Linked DNA regions of Homo sapiens: regions 2 and 3 are each reported to be linked to region 1. Evidence: microRNA targets listed by miRTarBase, many of them from high-throughput screens and not tested one by one. Region 1 holds a microRNA gene; each other region holds the end of a gene's coding sequence.
Evidence for each region. The annotated mature microRNA hsa-miR-4518 reads GCUCAGGGAUGAUAACUGUGCUGAGA and lies in region 1 at 4,272-4,297, shown strand. An mRNA with a match to its seed (bases 2 to 7 or 8) in the 3' UTR can be bound and repressed. Matches are read on the target gene's strand: a 7mer-m8 pairs with bases 2 to 8, a 7mer-A1 pairs with bases 2 to 7 and ends in A, and an 8mer does both.

Region 1 (7,186 bases):
GTGTATATATATATATGTATATATATATATATATATATTTTTTTTTTTTTGACACAGAGTCTCGCTCTGTCACCCAGGCTGTAGTGCAGTGGCACGGTCTCACTTACTACAGCACGATCTCGGCTCATGGCCACCTCCACCTCCTGGGTTCAAGCAATTCTCCTGCCTCAGTCTCCCGAGTACCTGGGATTACAGGCACCTGCCACTATGCCTAGCTAATTTTTGTATTTTTGGGAGAGATAGGGTTTCACCATGTTAGTCAGGCTGGTCTCGAACTCCTGACCTCTGGTGATCTGCCTGCATTGGCCTCCCAAAGTGCTGGGATTACAGGCATGAGCCATCGCTCCTGGCCTATTTTATATTATTTATTTATTTATTTATTTATTTATTTATTTATTTATTTATTTGAGACAGAGTCTCGCTCTATCACCCAGGCTGGAGTGCAGTGGCATGATCTCGGCTCACTACAGCCTCTGCCTCCCGGGTTCAAGCGATTCTCCTGCCTCAGCCTCCCGAGTAGCTGGGATTACAGGTGCATGCCACCATGCCCAACTAATTTTTATATTTTTAGTAGAGTTGGGGTTTCACCATGTTGGCCAGGCTGGTCTCGAACTCCTGACCTCAGGTGATCCTCCTACCTCGGCCTCCCAAAGTGCTGGGATTGCAGGCATGAGCCACTGCCCCCGGCCATATTTTATATTTTTAGAGATGGGGGTCTTACTTTGTTGCCCAGGCTGGACTCTAACTTCTGGCCTCAAGAGGTTCTCTTGCCTCAGCTTCCTGAGTAGCAGGGACTACAAGTGCACACCACTGTGCCTGGCTGCTTCTAGGTTTTTAATTTTTTTAATTTTTTATTAAAAAAATTTTTTTAGAGACAGGGCCTTGCTCTATCGTCCAGGCTGGAGTGGAGTGATGCAATCATGGCTCACTGTAGCCTCCAACTTCTGGGCTCAAATGATCCTCCCACCTCAGCCTCCCGAGTAGCTAGGACTACAGGCATGCACCACCACATCTGGATAATTTTTAAAAATGTTTTTGTAGGCCAAGCGCGGTGGCTCAGCACTTTGGGAGGCCAAGGTGGGTGGATCACCTGAGGTCAGGAGTTCGAGACCAGCCTGGCCAACATGGTGAAACCCCATCTCTACTAAAAATACAAAATTAGCTGCGTGTGTTGGCACATGCCTGTGATCCCAGCTACTTGGGAGGCTGAGGCAGGAGAATTGCTTGAACCCAGGAGGCAGAGGTTGCAGTGAGCCAAGATCGTGCCATTGCACTCCAGCCTGGGCAACAAGAGTGAAACTCCATCTCAAAAAAAAAAAAAATAGTTTTTGTAGAGACAAGGTCTTGCTGTGTTGCCCAGGCTGGTCTAAAACCCTTGGCATCAAGTAATCCTCTTACCTTGGCCTCCAAAAGTGCTGGGATTACGGGCATGAGCCACCGTGCCCAGCAGCTTCTACTTTTTAATATATTTATGGGCATTTTTAACATGATTACAATGGCAATGTAGTTACTATTTTTCCCTACTCTTTTCATACATTATATATTAATGCTGCTACACAGCTTTCATAATTTTTAATTATGAAATATTAAAATGTTTGGCTGGGCACGGTGGTTCATACCTGTAATCCCAGCACTTTGGGATGCCGAGGTGGGCAGATCACCTGAGATTGGCAGTCCAAGACCAGCCTGGCCAACATGGAGAAACCCCATCTCTACTAAAAATGTACAAAATTAGCTGGGCGTGGTGGCCCATGCCTGTAATTCCAGCTACTTGGGAGGCTGCGGCAGGAAAATCACTTGAACCCAGGAGATGGAGGTTGCAGTGAGCCGAGATCGTGCCATTGCACTCCAGCCTGAGCAACAAGAGTGAAACTCCATCTCAAAAAAAAAAAAAAAAATTAAAATATTTAATTTTTACAGAATATTCAATCATCATGGTATGTTGTTATTTGCCAGGTACATATCATGCATCCCAGAAAAACTTAGGGATTTTTTAAAGTTTTTAAATTAAGTCTCATGTATGGTACATGGAAAAAAAAAGTTTTTAAAAAAGTTAAAACAGGCCAGGCACGGTGGCTCATGCCAGCACTTTGAGAGGCTGAAGTAGGTGGATTGCTTGAGCTTAGGAGTTCAACACCAGCCTGGGCAACATAGCGAGACCCCTTCTCTACAAAAAACACCAAAAAATTAGCCAGCCTTGGTGGAGCGCACCTGTAGTCCCAGCTACCTGGGAGGCTGAAGCAGGAGGATTGCTTGAACCCAGGAGGTGGAGGTTGCAATGAGCTGTGATTGTGCCACTGCACTCCAGCCTGGGCAACAGAATGAGACTCTGTCTCCAAAACAATAAAGTTTGAACAACTGTTGAAATACCCAGATTCAGTTGCTTATAAGCAATCCTGTATAAAAATGGGATTAATATGGCCGGGCGCGGTGGCTCACGCCTCTAATCCCAGCACTTTGGGAGGCCAAGGTGGGCGGATCACGAGGTGAGGAGATTGAGACCATCCTGGCTAACACGGTGAAACCCCGTCTCTACTAAAAATACAAAAAATTAGCTGGGCGTGGTGGTGGGGGCCTGTAGTCCCAGCTACTTGGGAGGCTGAGGCAGGAGAATGGCATGAACCCGGGAGGCGGAGCTTGCAGTGAGCCGAGATCGCGCCCCTGCACTCCAGCCTGGGCGACAGAGCAAGACTCCATCTCAAAAAAAAAAAAAAAAAAAAAAAAGGATTGATATCAAATTGTTATGTTCTCTTAAATATTTCATAAAAGGCCAGGCATGGTGGCTCATGCCAGTAATCCCAGCACTTTGGGAGACTGAGGTGGGCGGATCACTTGAGGTCAGGAGTTCAGGACCAGCCTGGTCAACATGGTGAAAACCCATCTCTACTAAAAATGCAAAAAATTAGCCAGGTGTGGTGGCAGGCGCCTGTAATCCCAGCTACTCAGGAGGCTGAGGCAGGAGAATCATTTGAACCCAGGAGGCGGAGGTTGCAGTGAGCTGAGATTGTGCCATTGCATTCCAGCCTGGGCAATGATAGTGAAACTCCATCTCAAAAAAAAAAAAAAATTCATATAAGACAGTATAGGATTGGGACATAAGAATTTGAAGTTTGTTTTAAACTTTTTTTTTTTTTTGAGATGGAGTCTCACTGTGTTGCCCAGGCTAGAATGCATTGTTATGATCTGGGCCCACTGCAGCCTCTGCCCTCCTGGGTTCAAGTAATTCTCCCACCACATCCTACCAAGTAGCTGGGATTACAGGTGAACACCACCATGCCTGGCTAATTTTTGTATTTGTGATAGAGATGGGTTTTCACCATGTTGGCCAGGCTGGTCTCAAACTCCTGACCTCAGGTGATCCACCCACCTCGGCATCCCAAAGTGCTGGGATTACAGGTGTAAGCCACTGCACCCAGCCTGTTTTAAACTTTTTATTATGAGAATATGAATCACACAAAACTAGAAAAAAAATAGTTTAATGAATCCCCAGGTCCTCATCACCCAGTTTCAACAATTATCGACTCACCCTCTATTTCATTCAAACCTCTACTCAGTGCCCCTCTGCCTACTCCCATTCCACCTCTTATAAGATTTAGACATTTTAAACATAAATTTGCCAGAAAAGAAAGCAGTGTGACATGGTGGAAAGATCCTGGACTTTGGATTTGGACAGATTTGGGTTCAAATCTTGACTGTCACTCCAAGCTCTTAGGACAACTGTGCCACCTTTTTAGTTTTCATTTTCTTTTTTTTTTTTTCTTTTCTAGAGGGGGACAGAAGGAGGGAGGATGAAAGAGAAAGAGAAAGAAAGGAGGGAAGGAAGGAAGGACAACGGAGGAAGGAAGGAAGGGAGGGAGGGAGGGAGGCAGGCAAGGAGGGAGGGAGGGAAAAGAAGAAAGAAAAAAAGAAAAGAAAGAAGGAGAGAAGGAAGGAAAAGAGAAGAAAGAAAAGGAAGGAAGGGAGAGCTCATTTTCCTTATTTTAAATGTTGGGGTAATAATACCTACCTCTTAGGGCTAGTAGAACCTTCAGGTGAAAAACAATTTGAGTACCTACAAAATGCCAGTGTCAGGCATTGGTAATAGCAAATGACTAAGACCCAGCCCTATTCTCAAGGAACAAAATTCTAGAACTAGGATATTCTAGTTATTCTGAAATTTTCTTAAGCAAACTTTGATAATGGCTGCCTAGGTCAAAATTCAGGGGCTTCAGTTAGGACACAGTGGGGGAAAAGTGCTGGGATTGATTAGTGATGTCTGCTGGGGAACCGGGGCTCAGGGATGATAACTGTGCTGAGAAGCCCCCTGGGTGTGCTGTACACACCTGCTATGTAGTCAATGGATTTTCAATACTGGTAGGGTCTTAGACAAAGAACTACCAGAATTTCATCACTTGTAAAATGCTGACAAGGTATACATCTAATCGGAAGTGCGGTAAAAGTTAGATTCATGACATAGGCTGTATTCTTATCACCCTCAGGTATGTGTTCAAGACCTCATCTCCCCCATCAATGTTTCCCTGAATTTCTCTCTTTGGGAGGAGGAAGGGACACCGAGGGACCAAAGGGCGGTAAGAAGAGATGGCTAGGGATGGTGGGGAGTTTATCAGAGAAATCCATTTGGCAAGAAGAGCCGCCCATGGCCGGGCAGCACACTCCTATAATCCCAGCACTTTGGGAGGCTGAAGTGGGTGGATCACTTAAGGTCAGGGGTTCAGGACCAGCCTGGCCAACATGGTGAAACCCCATCTCTACTAAAAATACAAAGATTAGTCGGGTGTGATGGTGCACTTGAGGCCAGGAGTTTGAGACCAGCCTGGGCAACATAGTGGGACTCCCTTTCTACAAAACATAAAAAATTAGTTATTGTGATGGTGCGCCCCTGTAGTCCCAGCTACTTGGGAGGCTGAGCAGGGAGGATCACTTGAGCCAGAGGGTTGAGGCTGCAGTGAGCTATTGAGCTATGATTGCACCACTGCCCTCCAGCCTAGGCAACAGCACGAAACCCTGTCTCTAAAGAAGAAAAAAAAAAAAAAGAGCCGGCCGGGTGTTGTGGCTCACACCTGTAATCCCAGCACTTTGGAAGGCTGAGGGGGGTGGATTGCTTGAGACCAGGAGTTCGAGACCAGTGTGCCAACATGGCGAAAACCCATCTCTACTAAAAATATTTTTAAAAAATTAGCCAGGCGTGGTGGTAGATGCCTGTAATCCCAGCTACTCAGGAGGCTGAGGCATAAGAATCGCTTGAACCCAGGAGGCAGAGGTTGCAGTGAGCAGAGATTGTGCCACTGCACTCCAGCCTGGGCAACAGAGTAAGACAGTCTTAAAAAAAAAAAAAAAAAAGAGCTGCCAGCAGAGTAAGACTGCACAAATGGCAGTAGGCTGAGGCAGCAGAGTGGGGCAGCCCTGGAAAGGCAGCTGGCTCCTGGGCAGGGCCAACCACAGCCAGCCCAGTTGAGCTAAGCCCCTGCCCCTCCAGCTCTCCTTCATGAGGTCTGCTGCCTCAGTTAATCTCTCCTCTCTCCATCCTGCCCACTACCCCTCGCTCAGCAGGGCAAGGACATACCGCCCATCCTGAGACCCTCCCTGCACTCGGAAACCTGGGAGGTAAGAGGGGAGAAGGGGCAGGCAGAGAGGCCTGGGAACAAGTCCCTCCTGATCTGAGCCTGTTACTCCTTTCTTCTTGGTGTTTCAGATCCCTTTTGAGAAGAACTGTGGGGAGGACAAGAAGTGTGAGGCAAACTTGAGAGTGTCCTTCTCTCCTGCAAGGTCAGTAAGGCCTCCCACCCTCCAGCCTCCCATCCACTCTGTTTTAAGACCCCCCACTCCACTCACCAGATATGTCATTTGCAGACACCACTTCCCTCTCTTGGGCCTTAGTTTCCTTTTCTGAGAAATTTGAGGCTGAACTCAGGGGCTCATGCCTATAATCCCAGCACTTCAGGAGGCCAACCAAAGGGGGAAGATTCGTTAAGGCCAAGAGTTCAAGACCAGCTATGGGAAACATAGCAAGACCCTGTCACTAAAAAAAAATTTAAAAATTAGCTGGGCACGGTGGCTCATGCCTGTATTCCCAGCTACTTGGGAGATTGAGGCAGAGGATGGCTTGAGCCAGGAGTTTGAGGCTGCAGTAAGCACCACTGCACCCCAGCCTGGGTGACAGAGCAAGACTCTATCTCTAAAAAATAAAAAGCAAATAAAATAAAAAGCAAATCCCTCATGGAACTCCTATCAGTCATCAGTAAATGAGATTGCAAGAATTGTAAAACTGAAAGTCTGAGCATGGCCTGGCGCGGTGGCTCACGCCTATAATCCCAGCACTTTGGGAGGCCAAGGCGGGCAGATCACCTGAGGTCAGGAGCTCGAGGCCAGCCTGGCCAACATGGTGAAACCCTGTCTCTACTGAAAATACAAAACTTAGCCAGGCATGGTGGCACGTGCCTGTAATCCCAGCTATTTGGGAGGCTGAGGCAGGAGAATTGCTTGAATTCTGGAGGTGGAGGTTGCAGTAAGCCGAGACTGTGCCATTGCACTCCAGTCTGGGCTACAGAGTGAGATTCTGTCTCAATAAAAAAAAAAAAAAAAGCCGGGGGCGGTGGCCTGTAATCCCAGCACTTTGGGAGGCCGAGGCGGGCGGATCACGAGGTCAGGAGATTGAGACCATCCTGGCTAACACAGTGAAACCCCGTCTCTACTTAAAATACAAAAAAAAAAAATTAGCCGGGCATGGTGGTGGGCGCCCGTAGTCCCAGCTACTCGGGAGGTTGAGGCAGGAGAATGGCGTGAACCCGGGAGGCGGAGCTTGCAGTGAGCCAAGATCGCGCCACTGCACTCCAGCCTGGGTGACAGAGTGAGACTCCATCTCAAAAAAAAAAAAAAAAAAAAAAAAAAAAAAAAAAAAGACTGAGCATAAAAGATGATTGGTTTTGATTTATTTCTTTCTGGCCCACCAGATCCCTCAGTTCTGATATTCCCCACCCTGATCCTCCCTCCTCCATCTTTCCCTGATCATCCCCCACAGATCCAGAGCCCTGCGTCTAACTGCTTTTGCCAGCCTCTCTGTGGAGCTGAGCCTGAGTAACTTGGAAGAAGATGCTTACTGGGTCCAGCTGGACCTGCACTTCCCCCCGGGACTCTCCTTCCGCAAGGTGGAGATGCTGAAGGTGGGTGAGAGGACAGCGCCTGCCTG
Region 2 (7,186 bases), not on the chromosome of region 1:
GGGCGCACTGTGTGAGGAGAACATGCGGGGTGTGCGCTTCGACGTCCACGACGTCACCCTGCACGCCGACGCCATCCACCGCGGAGGGGGCCAGATCATCCCCACAGCACGGCGCTGCCTCTATGCCAGTGTGCTGACCGCCCAGCCACGCCTCATGGAGCCCATCTACCTTGTGGAGATCCAGGTGAGGTCTACCCGCCCACCGCTGACCCTGCCACCGTCCTGCCCAGCGGCCACTGACAGGTTTTCTTTCCCTTCTGGCAGTGTCCAGAGCAGGTGGTCGGTGGCATCTACGGGGTTTTGAACAGGAAGCGGGGCCACGTGTTCGAGGAGTCCCAGGTGGCCGGCACCCCCATGTTTGTGGTCAAGGCCTATCTGCCCGTCAACGAGTCCTTTGGTGAGTGCCTGCCCGGTGTGGCCTGCAGAGCCTGGCAGGCTGGTTTGGGGGACAGAAGCCCAGTTAAGCTTAGCAAGGTGTTAAAGGAGGCGTCCTGATGGGAGCAGGTGATGGATGGAGCAGGTGGTCCAGTTTCTGACAGCTTGTGGACCCCCTAAATCACTGAATTCCCAGGGGAGGGGCTCTCCTATCCCCAGTGTGAGAAGGGCTCTGGGCCTGGAGCTCTGAAGGCCTACGCCCTGGGCCGGTAGAGCAGCCGAGCTGTAGCACAGGGTTGTCCCAAACGAGCAGCGGCATGAGGCCCATGAGTGGCCTGCTAGGCCCTTCGTGAAGTGCTGGGCACCAGGCCGAGTGTCTGGTCTGCAGGGTGACTCAGGCTGAGGAACTAGCCTGAGCTCCTGACAGGACTTTCCTTCTGCCCTGCCACCTTCTCGATGGCCCAGTGAGCCTCTCGCTTCCCTCTGCAGGCTTCACCGCTGACCTGAGGTCCAACACGGGCGGCCAGGCGTTCCCCCAGTGTGTGTTTGACCACTGGCAGATCCTGCCCGGAGACCCCTTCGACAACAGCAGCCGCCCCAGCCAGGTGGTGGCGGAGACCCGCAAGCGCAAGGGCCTGAAAGAAGGCATCCCTGCCCTGGACAACTTCCTGGACAAATTGTAGGCGGCCCTTCCTGCAGCGCCTGCCGCCCCGGGGACTCGCAGCACCCACAGCACCACGTCCTCGAATTCTCAGACGACACCTGGAGACTGTCCCGACACAGCGACGCTCCCCTGAGAGGTTTCTGGGGCCCGCTGCGTGCCATCACTCAACCATAACACTTGATGCCGTTTCTTTCAATATTTATTTCCAGAGTCCGGAGGCAGCAGACACGCCCTCTTAGTAGGGACTTAATGGGCCGGTCGGGGAGGGGGAGGCGGGATGGGACACCCAACACTTTTTCCATTTCTTCAGAGGGAAACTCAGATGTCCAAACTAATTTTAACAAACGCATTAAGAGGTTTATTTGGGTACATGGCCCGCAGTGGCTTTTGCCCCAGAAAGGGGAAAGGAACACGCGGGTAGATGATTTCTAGCAGGCAGGAAGTCCTGTGCGGTGTCACCATGAGCACCTCCAGCTGTACTAGTGCCATTGGAATAATAAATTTGATAAGGTGGTGACTCTGTTCTGCATTTTTCACGGTGTCTTCGCAGGGGAGCGGGGCTGCCCAGTACTGGGCTCCCTGGAGCCTAGAAGGGGACCCGGGCCCTAGTTAGGTGCAGCCTGGGGCTGCCTCAGTGTTAGGTGGAACGTTCTGGAATGGTGGGAATGCCCTACCCCTGTGTCATTCAGAGAAGCAGCTGCCAGCTGCGCGGGTCTGCTGAGCATTTGAAGTAGGATCAGTGCGGCAAGGAATTACGAGATGTCACTTTGAACGCATTTGGATGGCCCTGTGGAGCGAGGGGCTCTGGATTGAACTTCGCAGGTTTCAGCAACTTTCCGAATTGCTGACGAGCTCACAAGTTCTATCTGCCATCAGGATTTTCTGTGGTCACCCCAGTCCTGACTAGTTTATTAGAAACCCATTTTTTTTTTTTTTTTTTTTGAGATGGAGTCTCACCGTTTGCTAGGCTGGAGTGGAATGGCACCATCTCTGCTCACTGCAACCTCCACCTCCCGGGTTCAAGCAATTCTGCCTCGGGCTCCTGGGTAGCTGGGATTACATGCGTGTGCTACCACGCCCAGCCAATTTTTATATTTTTAGTAGAGATGAGGTTTCACCATGTTGGCCTGGATGATCTTGATCACTCGACCTTGTGATCCACCCGCCTTGGCCTCCCAAAGCGTTGGGATTGTACCACTGTGCCCGGCCTTGTAAACACTTTTTTAGAGGCAGAGTCTTGCTGTCTCCCAGATGAGTATAGTGGTGCAGTCAGCTCACTGCATCCTCCACCTCCTGGACTCTCCTGCCTCAGCCTGCCAGGTAGCTGGGACTCCAGGCATGTGCCACCATGCCCAGCTAATTTTTATTTATTTTGAGACAGAATTTTGCTTGGCCTGGTTGGTCTCGAACTCCTGACCTCAAGTGATCTGCCCGCCTCGGCCTCCCAAAGTGCTGGGAATTATAGGCGTGAGCCACTGTGCTGACCTAATTTTTACTTTTTTTGTAGTAATGGGGTCTCACTATGTTGCTCAGGCTGGTCTCCTTCCCGGGCTCAAGCGATCCTTCTGCCTCAGCCTCCCAAAGTGCTGGGATTTCAGGTGTGAGCGCCAATAGCTTAGAAAACTATTTGTTTTTCTAAATAGTGCCTAAGATGTGAGGAGGCCTAATCTTGTCAGTGCTGATAAGGTTAACATGATCATTTTCCGCCTTTTACTCTGTCCTCAGGAAGGCAGGTGGGGACTGTGAAGTAGGGCTGTGGGGTTCTCGGCAAAGGCGGGGGCAGCTCTGGCCCTGCATTGTCAAGGCCAAGCCTCAGCTGAGGTTTTGCCCACATGTAGGTATGCCTGAGGTTTGGTTTGGCTGTCGCATTTGAATTGGGGCTGTAACTGACGCTGTTTCCAGCAGTCAGGGTAACGGATTACTGTGTTTCGAGAATCTCACTCTATCGCCCAGGATGGAGTGCAGTGTTGTGATCTTGGCTCACTATAGCCTCTGCCTCCGGATTCAAGTGCTCAAGCAATTCTTGTGCTTCAGCCTCCCGAGTAGCTGGAATTACAGGCGCCTATCACCAGGTCTGTGTAATTTTTGTATATTTAGGTGAGATGGGGTTTCACCATGTTGGCCAGGCTGGTCTCAAGCTCGACCGTAAGAGATCAGCCCGCCTCAGCCTCCCAAAGTGCTGGGGTTACAGGTGTGAGCCACCATACCGGGTCCTATTCTTTTTTAGTAGTGCAAACGTTAAGATGGTATGTGGAAGCTGAATTTTTTTTTTTTTTTGAGACAGTCTTTGCTCTGTCACCCAGGCTGGAGTGCAGTGGCTCAATCTTGGCTCACTGCAAGCTCCGCCTCCCGGGTTCACGCCATTCTCCTGCCTCAGCCTCCCGAGTAGCCGGGACTACAGGCGCCCGCCACCATGCCCGGCTAATTTTTTGTATTTATTAGTAGAGACAGGGTTTCACCGTGTTAGCCAGGATAGTCTCGATCTCCTGACCTCGTGATCCACCCGCCTCGGCCTCCCAAAGTGCTGGGAATTATAGGCGTGAGCCACTGTGCTGACCTAATTTTTACTTTTTTTGTAGTAATGGGGTCTCACTATGTTGCTCAGGCTGGTCTCCTTCCCGGGCTCAAGCGATCCTTCTGCCTCAGCCTCCCAAAGTGCTGGGATTTCAGGTGTGAGCGCCAATAGCTTAGAAAACTATTTGTTTTTCTAAATAGTGCCTAAGATGTGAGGAGGCCTAATCTTGTCAGTGCTGATAAGGTTAACATGATCATTTTCCGCCTTTTACTCTGTCCTCAGGAAGGCAGGTGGGGACTGTGAAGTAGGGCTGTGGGGTTCTCGGCAAAGGCGGGGGCAGCTCTGGCCCTGCATTGTCAAGGCCAAGCCTCAGCTGAGGTTTTGCCCACATGTAGGTATGCCTGAGGTTTGGTTTGGCTGTCGCATTTGAATTGGGGCTGTAACTGACGCTGTTTCCAGCAGTCAGGGTAACGGATTACTGTGTTTCGAGAATCTCACTCTATCGCCCAGGATGGAGTGCAGTGTTGTGATCTTGGCTCACTATAGCCTCTGCCTCCGGATTCAAGTGCTCAAGCAATTCTTGTGCTTCAGCCTCCCGAGTAGCTGGAATTACAGGCGCCTATCACCAGGTCTGTGTAATTTTTGTATATTTAGGTGAGATGGGGTTTCACCATGTTGGCCAGGCTGGTCTCAAGCTCGACCGTAAGAGATCAGCCCGCCTCAGCCTCCCAAAGTGCTGGGGTTACAGGTGTGAGCCACCATACCGGGTCCTATTCTTTTTTAGTAGTGCAAACGTTAAGATGGTATGTGGAAGCTGAATTTTTTTTTTTTTTTGAGACAGTCTTTGCTCTGTCACCCAGGCTGGAGTGCAGTGGCTCAATCTTGGCTCACTGCAAGCTCCGCCTCCCGGGTTCACGCCATTCTCCTGCCTCAGCCTCCCGAGTAGCCGGGACTACAGGCACCCGCCACCATGCCCGGCTAATTTTTTGTATTTATTAGTAGAGACAGGGTTTCACCGTGTTAGCCAGGATGGTCTTGATGTCCTGACTTCGTGATCTGCCCACCGTGGCCTCCCAAAATGCTGGAATTACAGGCGTTAGCCACCATGCCCTGCCACTTTTTTTTCTTTGAGATGGAGTCTCCCTCCGTCACCCAGGCTGTAGTATAGTGGCATGATCTCGGCTCGCTGCAACCTCCACCTCCTGGGTTCAAGCAATTCTCCTGCGCTAGCCTCCCGAGTAGCTGGGATTACAGGCATGTGCCACCAGGCCTGGCTAACTTTTGTATTTTTAGTAGAGACAGGGTTTCACCATGTTGAGCAGGCTGGTCTTGAACTCCTACTTCAAGTGACCTGCCCGCCTTGGCTGCCCAAGCTGTTGGGATTACGGGCGTGAGCCACCACACCTGGCCAACCCATTGTACGTTGAAAATGTAAATAAAAAATATAAAGGCCGGCTTGTGGCTCACGTCTGTAATCGCAGCACTTTGAGAGGCCGAGGCCGGCGGATCACAGATATTGAGACCATCCTGGCCAACATGGTGAAACCCTGCGTCTACTAAAAATACAAAAATCAGCTGGGAGTGGTGGCGTGCACCTGTAGTCCCAGCTACTCGGGAGGCTGAGGCAGGAGAATCGCTTGAACCCAGGAGGCAGAGATTGCAGTGAGCCCAGATCTCACCACTGCGTTCCAGCCTGGACGATAGAAGGAGACTGTCTCAAAAAAAAAAAAAAAAAAAAAAAAAGGCTGGGCAAGGTGGCTCATGCCTGTAATTCCTGCACTTTGGGAGGCCGAGGCGGGCGGATCAGGAGGTCAGGAGATCGAGACCATCCTGGCTAACACGGTGAAACCCTGTCTCTACTAATAAATACAAAAAATTAGCTGGGCGTGGTGACGGGCGCCTGTAGTCCCAGCTATTCGGGAGGCTGAGGCAGGAGAATGGCGTGAACCTGGGAGGTGGAGCTTGCAGTGAGCCGAGATTGTGCCAGTGTACTCCAGCCTGGGTGACAGAGCGAGACTCCGTCTCAAAATAATAATAAAAAATGAATTTAGGCCGGGCGCAATGGCTCACGCCTGTAATCTCAGCACTTTGGAAAGCTGAGGTGCCGGATCACCTGAGCTTAGGAGTTCGAGACCAGCCTGGGCAACATGGTGAAACCCCGTCTCTACTAAAAATACAAAAATTAGCCGGGCGTGGTGATGGGCACCTGTAATCCCAGCTACTTGGGAGGCTGAGGCACGAGAATCGTTTGAACCCGGGAGGTGGAGGTTGCAGTGAGCTGGATACCGCCGCTGCACTCCTGCCTGGGTGACAGAGTGAGACCCTGTCTCAAAAAATAAAATTAAAAAAAAAACAAACCTGATACCTCCCAGTGTTGTCAGTTGGCACATACTATGTCTCAATAAAATGCTTGCTGTTACCCTCTATTTTGAGACGAAGAGGGACCCTGTGTATGACAACCCCAGATTGACCTCATTTGCATTTTAAGTATTTAGAATGTGGGTAACAGTTTTCAGTGGAGGAAACTGCCACATAGGGACTAAAGCAGTCCCAGGGTCCACTCCAGGAGCTGCCAGGCGCGCTCGGCCACAGGTGAGCCATCCATTCGCCCAACCGGTGCTCCAGGAAGGCAGGAAGCGGGATGCAGGGCTTCAGCCTCACTTCTCGCAGCTTCAGCACCTGGGTCAGAGGAGAGGCGGGCGGGGCGATGAAGGGACCGGAAGTCGGCCTTTTTTCCGTCCGCTTGACCAGCGTCGACTGCAGCCAATGAAATCAGGGATGGCGAGTGTTCAGCCAGTGGTGAGGCTGCATCCGGGTGTGGGTGCCGAAAAGGCAGCTGGGGGCGGGACGTCGAGGTGCGGCACGAGCGGCGGGCGCACCGGCCAATAGGCGGCGGGGTTCGTTTCCCGGGGGTGGGCACTGGCGGGTGCGGTGACGTCGGCGCAGGCGCGTCGCGGCGGCAGGGGCGCGGGGCTTCTGGAGGCGGCGGCGGTGGCCAGCGCGGCGGCGCCGGCCGTATTCTCCGGGCTGCGGAGGGTAAAGAGCGGGCTCGGGCCGAGGCTGGAGGGCTGGGTGGGGCCAGAGCGGCGCTTCGGGGGCCCGCGGAGGACGAGGGAGGGAGAGAATCTGAGGAGCTGGTAGGTTTGGGGACCCATCTGGGTGACCGGGCCGGGGAAAGGGCTCGGCCGGGCGTGCGAGGGGCGTAGCGGCCCCAGGGATGCTGGAGCGGAGCCTTAGGGATGGGCAAGGCCTTGGGGGCGGGGGGAGGTTCTGCAAAGGGAGCCACTGGGGTCTGCCTAGGGGCTTGTGCGGAGATTGCGGGCGAGAAGGGGCAGAGGACGGTGGAGGAGACTCAGATGGGGCCCTTTTTGGCGGCCCGTTTTGGGGGGTAGGGGAGACGGCGGTTGGGGGACTTTGATACATGGAGCGTGGAGGAAGAGGTTAATCTTGCGAGGACAGTGGAGGTCAGCGGGGGAGGGAGGCAAAGTGGGCTTTCAGGAGCGTGGAAGGCGTCGTCCGGTTCTTGGAAAATTCAGAATTGGAGGGAGTCAGAGATGGTTGGGGGTGGGCGGGGGTGTTCCATCGATGAGGGTCTTAAGAGACCTGCCGAGGGCAAGGACCAGGAGGGGTTA
Region 3 (7,186 bases), not on the chromosome of region 1:
GCTGGTTCCTGGGTGTCCTGATCGGGCTGTGTCCTGTGTGTCCTGCCTGAAGAAGGGATCGGGGAGGTGCTGGAGAAGGAAGACTGCATGCAGGCCCTGAGCGGCCAGATCTTCATGGGCATGGTGTCCTCCCAGTACCAGGCCCGGCTGGACATCGTGCGCCTCATTGATGGGCTTGTCAACGCCTGCATCCGCTTTGTCTACTTCTCTTTGGAGGATGAGCTCAAAAGCAAGGTGGGGAGAGCCATCCCTTCTGCCACCACTAACTCTGTTTCCACGGGCTTTTGGGCCCGTATGTTCATGGCCGTCTGCCTTTCACAGGTGTTTGCAGAAAAAATGGGCCTGGAGACAGGCTGGAACTGCCACATCTCCCTCACACCCAATGGTGACATGCCTGGCTCCGAGATCCCCCCCTCCAGCCCCAGCCACGCAGGCTCCCTGCATGATGACCTGAATCAGGGTAAGGGCAAAGGCGTGGGGTGGGGACGGGGTGGCGGTGGGAGGATTCCCCTCCTCAGAGCCACAGCCAGGAAGAGCCTCCGGAGAGCCCTCCAGTTAAGTACATTCCCTTGGGAAATGGCTCTGATGTCCCTGCGGGAAACAGTAGTCAGCAGGAAGGAGTGGACACAGGCAAAAAATTCTCTGCAGGGCAAGGACAGGTTCCCAGAAGGCTGGTCCCAAGGTGAGGGAGAGGCTTTTGTCCCCACAGTGTCCCGAGATGATGCAGAAGGGCTCCTCCTCATGGAGGAGGAGGGCCACTCGGACCTCATCAGCTTCCAGCCTACGGACAGCGACATCCCCAGCTTCCTGGAGGACTCCAACCGGGTACGATGGCAGGATCTGTCTCACGTGTTCCTGTAGTGGTCCCATAGCTGGTCCAGGGGAGAGGTAGAGAGGTGGTGGGCAGGCGGTGGAGGGGAGGGATGCTGATCCCCATCCCGAAGCCGCTGGCATCTCTGCTTTCTCCAGGCCAAGCTGCCCCGGGGTATCCACCAAGTGCGGCCCCACCTGCAGAACATTGACAACGTGCCCCTGCTAGTGCCCCTTTTCACCGACTGCACCCCAGAGAGTGAGTGCTGTGGCCATGGGTACTTGGGCAACCTGGTCCCGTCGGCTGAGCTCTGCCTGGGCCTGCGTACCCCGTGGGCTCTGGAGGGATGTAGGTTTCCCATGCAGGGAGTAAAGGAACCTGGGCTGGGATCAGCTGGGGAATCTTGTGGGTTGGAGTCAGAAGTGCCGATGTTCACATGATCCCGCTGCCGGGGGTGGGATTGTTTCAAAGAGGGGCCCACCTCCCATCGCCTCCTGCTCTCCTGTCCCATGGGTCTCTGCCCAGTGCCCACTTGGTGCTCTGCCTGCCTGACTCTGGTGCCCTTATACGCTGTCCTCAGCCATGTGTGAGATGATAAAGATCATGCAAGAGTACGGGGAGGTGACCTGCTGCCTGGGCAGCTCTGCCAACCTGCGGAACAGCTGCCTCTTCCTCCAGAGCGACATCAGGTCAGGGCGGGACCCTGGAGCCTGCGGGCCAGCCTCTACCTCCCAGACCGGAGGATCAGATGGGCCTGCGTGGGGCTGGGGGTGTGTACTATAGCCGACCTCGCCCTGGCTGGGACCAATGCACCTGGGCATGGTGGGAGAAGAGGGTGGGGTGCCCAGTCCTGTGGGAGATACAGCTGAAGTGTGTGTGTCCCCCACCCTGAGCAGCATTGCCCTGGATCCCCTGTACCCATCCCGTTGCTCCTGGGAGACCTTTGGCTACGCCACCAGCATCAGCATGGCCCAGGCCTCGGATGGCCTTTCTCCCCTGCAGCTGTCAGGGCAGCTCAACAGCCTGCCCTGTTCCCTGACCTTTCGCCAGGAGGAGACCATCAGCATCATCCGGCTTATCGAACAGGTGGGTGCTTCGGCAGGCAAAGGAGGAGAGACGCAGGACAGGACCCGCCTGGGGTGGGAGTAGCAGCAAAGGACCTGTTTGAACCCGGGGACCTCATTCCCCAGCCCTCCGAGCGGGCTCTCCCAGGCAGTTACATTCGCCTCTGCTCCCCTCGTAGAAGCATCCTGGGCGTCTGGCTCTTGGCTAAAGTGTGTCAGCTGTTGGGCCTGGGAGAGGCCAGGTAGACCCAGGCCATAATCTGTCCCTCTTGGTCCCTAGGCTCGGCATGCCACCTATGGCATCCGTAAGTGCTTCCTCTTCCTGCTGCAGTGCCAGCTGACTCTTGTGGTCATCCAGGTGAGGTGGGGCCCGCACAGGCATTGCCCCCGTGCCACTCACCCCTTCACTCAGGGGCCAGCTGAAAATCTGAGGAAGGAGGCTGGGGTTAGCAGTACAGTCAAGGGGTCCCCCCAGAGCCTCTGTGAAGCCCCTGGGCTTTTTGAGCTGACCCTCATTGGCAGAAGAGTATTCCCTCCGGCCCCTGTTCCCTCTGGCAGGATGTGAGCATCTATCTGGGCCCAGGGCAAGGGAGCTCGGGGGCTCCTATGCCCTTATTATTTGCCTGAATTGAACTGTGGCTCTTGGCTTCTTTCCTGGTCTAGTTCCTTTCTTGCCTGGTCCAGCTGCCGCCACTCCTGAGTACCACCGACATCCTGTGGCTGTCCTGCTTTTGCTACCCTCTGCTCAGGTGAGATGCCATGTATCTTCCCCACACCCCATGCCTAAGCAGGAGGTGTCTGGATGTCACTGTGCAGCCCCAGGAGCCCAAGGTTCTGGAACTGCTCAGGTCTCACCTCCTCTGGTACAGGAGGCATGGAGGGAACCCCCTTTGTCTTTTTTTTTTTTTTTTTTTTTTTTTTTGAGATGGAGTCTCGCTCTGTCACCCAGGCTGGAGTGCAATGGTGCAATCTCTGCTCATTGCAACCTCCGCCTCCCGGGCTCAAGTGATTCTCCTGCCTCAGCCCCCTGAGTAGCTGGGATTACAGGCACCCACTATCATGCCTGGCTAATTTTTGTATTTTTAGTAGAGATGGGTTTTTGCCATGTTGGCGAGGCTGGTTTTGAACTCCTGACCTCAAATGATCTGCCCATCTCAGCCTCCCAAAGTGCTGGGATTACAGGTGTGAGCCACTGCCGTCCAGCCTTTGTTTTATTCCATCCCCTCACCAGACTCGACCTCACGCGCAAGACTCCCTAGAGGTTCCCTCTATGAGAATTGAGGGACAGAGGGTCATTGTCACCATCCCTCTACCTGATCTCTGCTTTTCAGCATCTCTCTGCTGGGGAAGCCCCCCCATAGCTCCATCATGTCTATGGCAACGGGGAAAAACCTCCAGTCCATTCCCAAGAAGGTAAGCAAAACAGACCCTGTGAGCCTTGCAAGTGAGCATGGAAGGGACTGAGGATTGGGGGAGGAGAGAGGGGCTAATCTGGAAGGCTCTGGATGGGGGATTCCAGCAGAACTCCGGCACTTGGTTCCTAGTCTTCCCCCAGATCAAAGAGGAGGTAGTGGCACAGAGCTGGGAAAGACCCTTGCTGGGGCTTGAGCTCCCTATCCCCCCAGGCCTGACCATTTACTAAGAGCCCGTTGAATACGTGGAAGAGCTAGGAGCAGCCGGCAGAGGGGCTGTGCGCCCCAGGAGTGACTGGCCTTGTTCCCGCAGACCCAGCACTACTTCCTGCTCTGCTTCCTGCTCAAGTTCAGCCTCACCATCAGCTCCTGCCTCATCTGCTTTGGCTTCACACTGCAGAGCTTCTGTGACAGCTCCCGGGACCGCAACCTCACCAACTGCTCCTCCGTCATGCTGCCCAGGTGGGTCCCAGCCCCAGAGATCCACCCATCGCCTGCCTCGCCTCGAGGCTTCCTCCCTCCCCACCCCAGCCTACCTCCCTGCGGCCCTAGAGGGGCTGAGCCCATGCCTCACTTTGGCAGCAACGACGACAGGGCTCCAGCCTGGTTTGAGGACTTTGCCAATGGACTGCTGTCGGCTCAGAAGCTCACGGCCGCCCTGATTGTCCTGCACACTGGTGAGAGGGCTCCCTGGGAGGGCGTGGATGATGGTGGGAGAGGAGCCCCACTGTGGAAGTCTGACCCCCACATCGCCCCACCTTCCCCAGTCTTCATTTCCATCACCCATGTGCATCGCACCAAGCCCCTGTGGAGAAAGAGCCCCTTGACCAACCTCTGGTGGGCCGTGACAGTGCCTGTGGTGTGAGTATTGCTAGGATGGAGGGCGGAGTGTGGGCTGGGGAGGAGAGGGCCTTCTGCAGGGCTAGGATCGGAGGGCGGGACCGGGGCCAGTGGTTTAACTGTACCCTGCCTGAGCTAACTGTTGTACTGGGAAGAGCAGGGAAGGAAGCAAGCAGTGTCGGGTTCACACGGGGCCGCCACCTCCTGCAGGCTGCTGGGTCAGGTGGTCCAGACGGCTGTGGACCTGCAGCTGTGGACACACAGGGACAGCCACGTCCACTTTGGCCTGGAGGACGTGCCCCTGCTGACATGGCTCCTGGGCTGCCTGTCCCTGGTCCTTGTGGTGGTGACCAATGAGATCGTGAAGCTACATGAGATTCGGTGAGCTGTCAGCAGGGCGCCTCCCTCTGGGCTCAGGCATGTTCCCTAAACCTGTTACTCCCTTGGCGACACTCCCCCACCTTTCCGCTGCCCATCCCTCCCTCCTCCTCTGGTGTCCTGCCCCGGCCCCTGGTCTAAGGATCTTTGCCAACCTGTACTTTAATCTCCTGCCCCACCAGGGTCCGAGTCCGCTACCAGAAGCGACAGAAGCTGCAGTTTGAAACTAAGCTGGGCATGAACTCTCCCTTCTGAGCCACTGGCTGTGGTGGCTGTAGTTGCCCCCGTCCCTGGGGCTAAAGCCAGACCCATTTCTGAACAGGGGAGTTTGTATCATGAATGTTTCCAGGTTTGCTCCTGCACCCGTGGCACTGGAAACCCAGCTCCCCGTGTCAGACCCCGCTGTCTTCCTGAGCCCTGGGGCTCACTGTGGAGGAGCTGACGGCCTGGGCCCTTGGCCAGTCCTGGCTCTTCCCTGGGCCTCACCAGGGACACTCTTGAATGTATGGCCTCAGGCGCTCCCTAGAGGGGCCCTAAACCCCCTCACCTGTGAGCTACCCCCTTTAGGGATCCCTTGCCCCCTTGGAGATCCCTTGCCCCCCAGTGCCTCTGCTCGTGGGTCCCTGGACACGGCCTTGAAGCCAACCTTCTTTGGAGGAGCAACAGCAGCAGCCTTGGCCGACGCGTCCAACTCCCAAGGCTGCCGTGGAGGGCAGGGGGGTGGTGCTTGCCTGGATGTGGCCCCGAGTGCCTCCCCTCCCTCCCTCTGTGGGGGAGTCTCCCGCCTGAACCTGAAGATGGAGCAGGGCCCCCGCTTCGCCCTGGAGCCTCTTCCTGTGCCTGGCTCAAGCTGGCTGCCTGTCAGTCTTGGGGAATCTGGCCCAGGTCTCCTCAGCCTCTGCCCCAGTTCTGGGAGAAGTTTCTACTGGTGTATATTTTTTACTGGAAATGAGCCTTTTAGGAATGAATGTAGACTGGTTTGTATTAAAATGTGTCAATTGCTAAGAAATACCTGTGGCTGGTCTGTAAGGCCACTCCAGGGTCTGCCCACCCCCGGCGGTGGCTGGCAAAGGGAGGCCTAAACCTTCCTCCATCTACGCGGGTGGGTCCCTCAGGTCTGGCTCAGGCGAGACCCCTAGGGTCAGGGGTCCCCATGTCACAGAGGCAAACACACAGCCCAGTCACGTGGAATGGTGTTTTCATTGGTGTTAGTTGGGGGAAGAGGTTAATGGTTACAGAGCCAGGGCCTGGGCCAATGGGGTCAGGCTCTCCCTGCCCTCAGGTGGGCAGTCGGGGCTCCTGCTGTGGTCCGAAGCCCCTCCCCCATTGTGTCCTCTCAGGCAGTTGATAGAATAAATTCCATTTAAAATATATGCATTTCTCTCTGCTTAGAAAATAACATTTACAATTGAAAAGTTAGGACTTGTGGGATCTGTTAACCCCACTGCCTCCCACCCCTGCTAGCCCTGCCTCAGTGAGGGAAGGCGGGGGCAGGAGCTGCCTGGGCACCACCGCTGTGTATTTACATGTCCTCTGTACACCTACGGAGAGGGGGCCCGGCCAGACACACGCCTCCTCCAGCCTCTCAGGGCCTGGGCAGGATGGTGGGTGGCAAGAGGCATTCCCTTGGCACAACTTGGGACATGGGCTGGGGGGTACAGAGAAAGCACCCCCAAAGCCCCACCCCTACTTCCTCCCTGAGGAGAGAGCTCTTACCAGGGTCCCTGTCCAGGAGCAGGGCTGTCCTGCTCAATCGATCAAACCCTGGGAGGGGCTTTGCTGAGATGCAGCGGAGGTCCCTCGCTAGTCAGGTTCTAAGGTGGGCTGCCCCACAAGAGCTGTGGTGCCCACAGCCGCGGGCTGAGTGGGAAGGGGCCCTGCTAGGAGGGGCACTTCAGCCTGACCAGCCCTTGGCCCGTCCCTAGGGTGGCAGGGGCCTCTTCTGTGCTGGGGCAAAGGCAGTGGACTTCGGCAGGTCACAGTGGGCACTGCTGGAGGGCTCAGTCCAGCATGGCGTCCAGCTGGTCAGCCAGGGCGTCGAACATGGTGCTGATGTCATCCAGAATGTGCTTGGTGGAGGCGCTGGGGGTGCTGCAGCAAGGGGAAGGATGCGGTCAGATCAGCCAGTGGCCTGCACCCCACTGGCCCTGGGGCAGGGAGCTGTCATAGCTCCCAGAGGCTCAGGGAGGCAAGGGACCGGCCAGGCTCCTGTGCCTCTTAAATGGTAGCCACCAGGATTCCCTGATCTAGGTGATTTCAACACCTGGCCTCTTATCCCGTTAGTGCCTGCAATGTCCCCCTCCAACATCCCCATGATCCCTGGGCAGAGGATGCAGGGAGCACTGTTTCTCTGCAGCCTTCTCTCCCTCCCCATCCGGCCCCCCTCACCCCTCTTGCTCCTTGGTGCCAATGCTCTTCTCTGCGGCTCTCAGTGCAGCTGCCAGGGACGAGCTGGTCTGCTCCAGTCTCTGCTGGGCCTGGCCTGGGCCCACAGTCCCAGTGCTCTCAGGCCGTGGAGGAGGCACTGGGCGGGGGCCGAGCCGGGGCGCTAGCTTAGGGCCAGAAAATGCCAGCTGGGTGCAGGCCACCGACACAGGCTTGGGGGCTGTTCCTGCAGAGACAAAAAGGTTGGCTTGGGACTTGGCTGGGTCAGACACAACCCTGCCAGCAGTGACTCTCCC

Region 2: miRTarBase lists EEF2 as a target of hsa-miR-4518. Seed matches in the 3' UTR shown: 8mer at 1,167-1,174.
Region 3: miRTarBase lists CASKIN2 as a target of hsa-miR-4518. Seed matches in the 3' UTR shown: 8mer at 6,089-6,096 and 7mer-A1 at 5,840-5,846.

Annotation. Positions count from the first base shown.
Region 1 is chr16:30,499,697-30,506,882 of GRCh38, forward strand. MIR4518 (microRNA 4518) reads left to right here and starts at 4,223; the gene lies at 4,223-4,305. It overlaps ITGAL (integrin subunit alpha L), which reads left to right. Exons shown (of 31, transcript NM_002209.3): 18 at 4,479-4,568; 19 at 5,548-5,604; 20 at 5,693-5,766; 21 at 7,019-7,160.
Region 2 is chr19:3,970,426-3,977,611 of GRCh38, reverse strand. EEF2 (eukaryotic translation elongation factor 2) reads left to right here. Exons shown (of 15, transcript NM_001961.4): 13 at 2-184; 14 at 265-397; 15 at 865-1,556. The coding sequence ends at 1,058. It overlaps DAPK3 (death associated protein kinase 3), which reads left to right and starts at 6,513. Exons shown (of 9, transcript NM_001348.3): 1 at 6,513-6,691. RefSeq lists enhancers at 3-212, 6,830-7,186 and a silencer at 6,529-6,658.
Region 3 is chr17:75,494,575-75,501,760 of GRCh38, forward strand. CASKIN2 (CASK interacting protein 2) reads right to left here. Exons shown (of 20, transcript NM_020753.5): 19 at 6,894-7,116; 20 at 5,687-6,596. The coding sequence ends at 6,506. It overlaps TMEM94 (transmembrane protein 94), which reads left to right. Exons shown (of 32, transcript NM_014738.6): 19 at 53-234; 20 at 322-460; 21 at 710-825; 22 at 970-1,069; 23 at 1,392-1,500; 24 at 1,708-1,897; 25 at 2,156-2,233; 26 at 2,539-2,624; 27 at 3,207-3,288; 28 at 3,601-3,749; 29 at 3,870-3,964; 30 at 4,055-4,148; 31 at 4,338-4,508; 32 at 4,688-5,878. The coding sequence ends at 4,760. MIR6785 (microRNA 6785) reads left to right here and starts at 3,974; the gene lies at 3,974-4,054.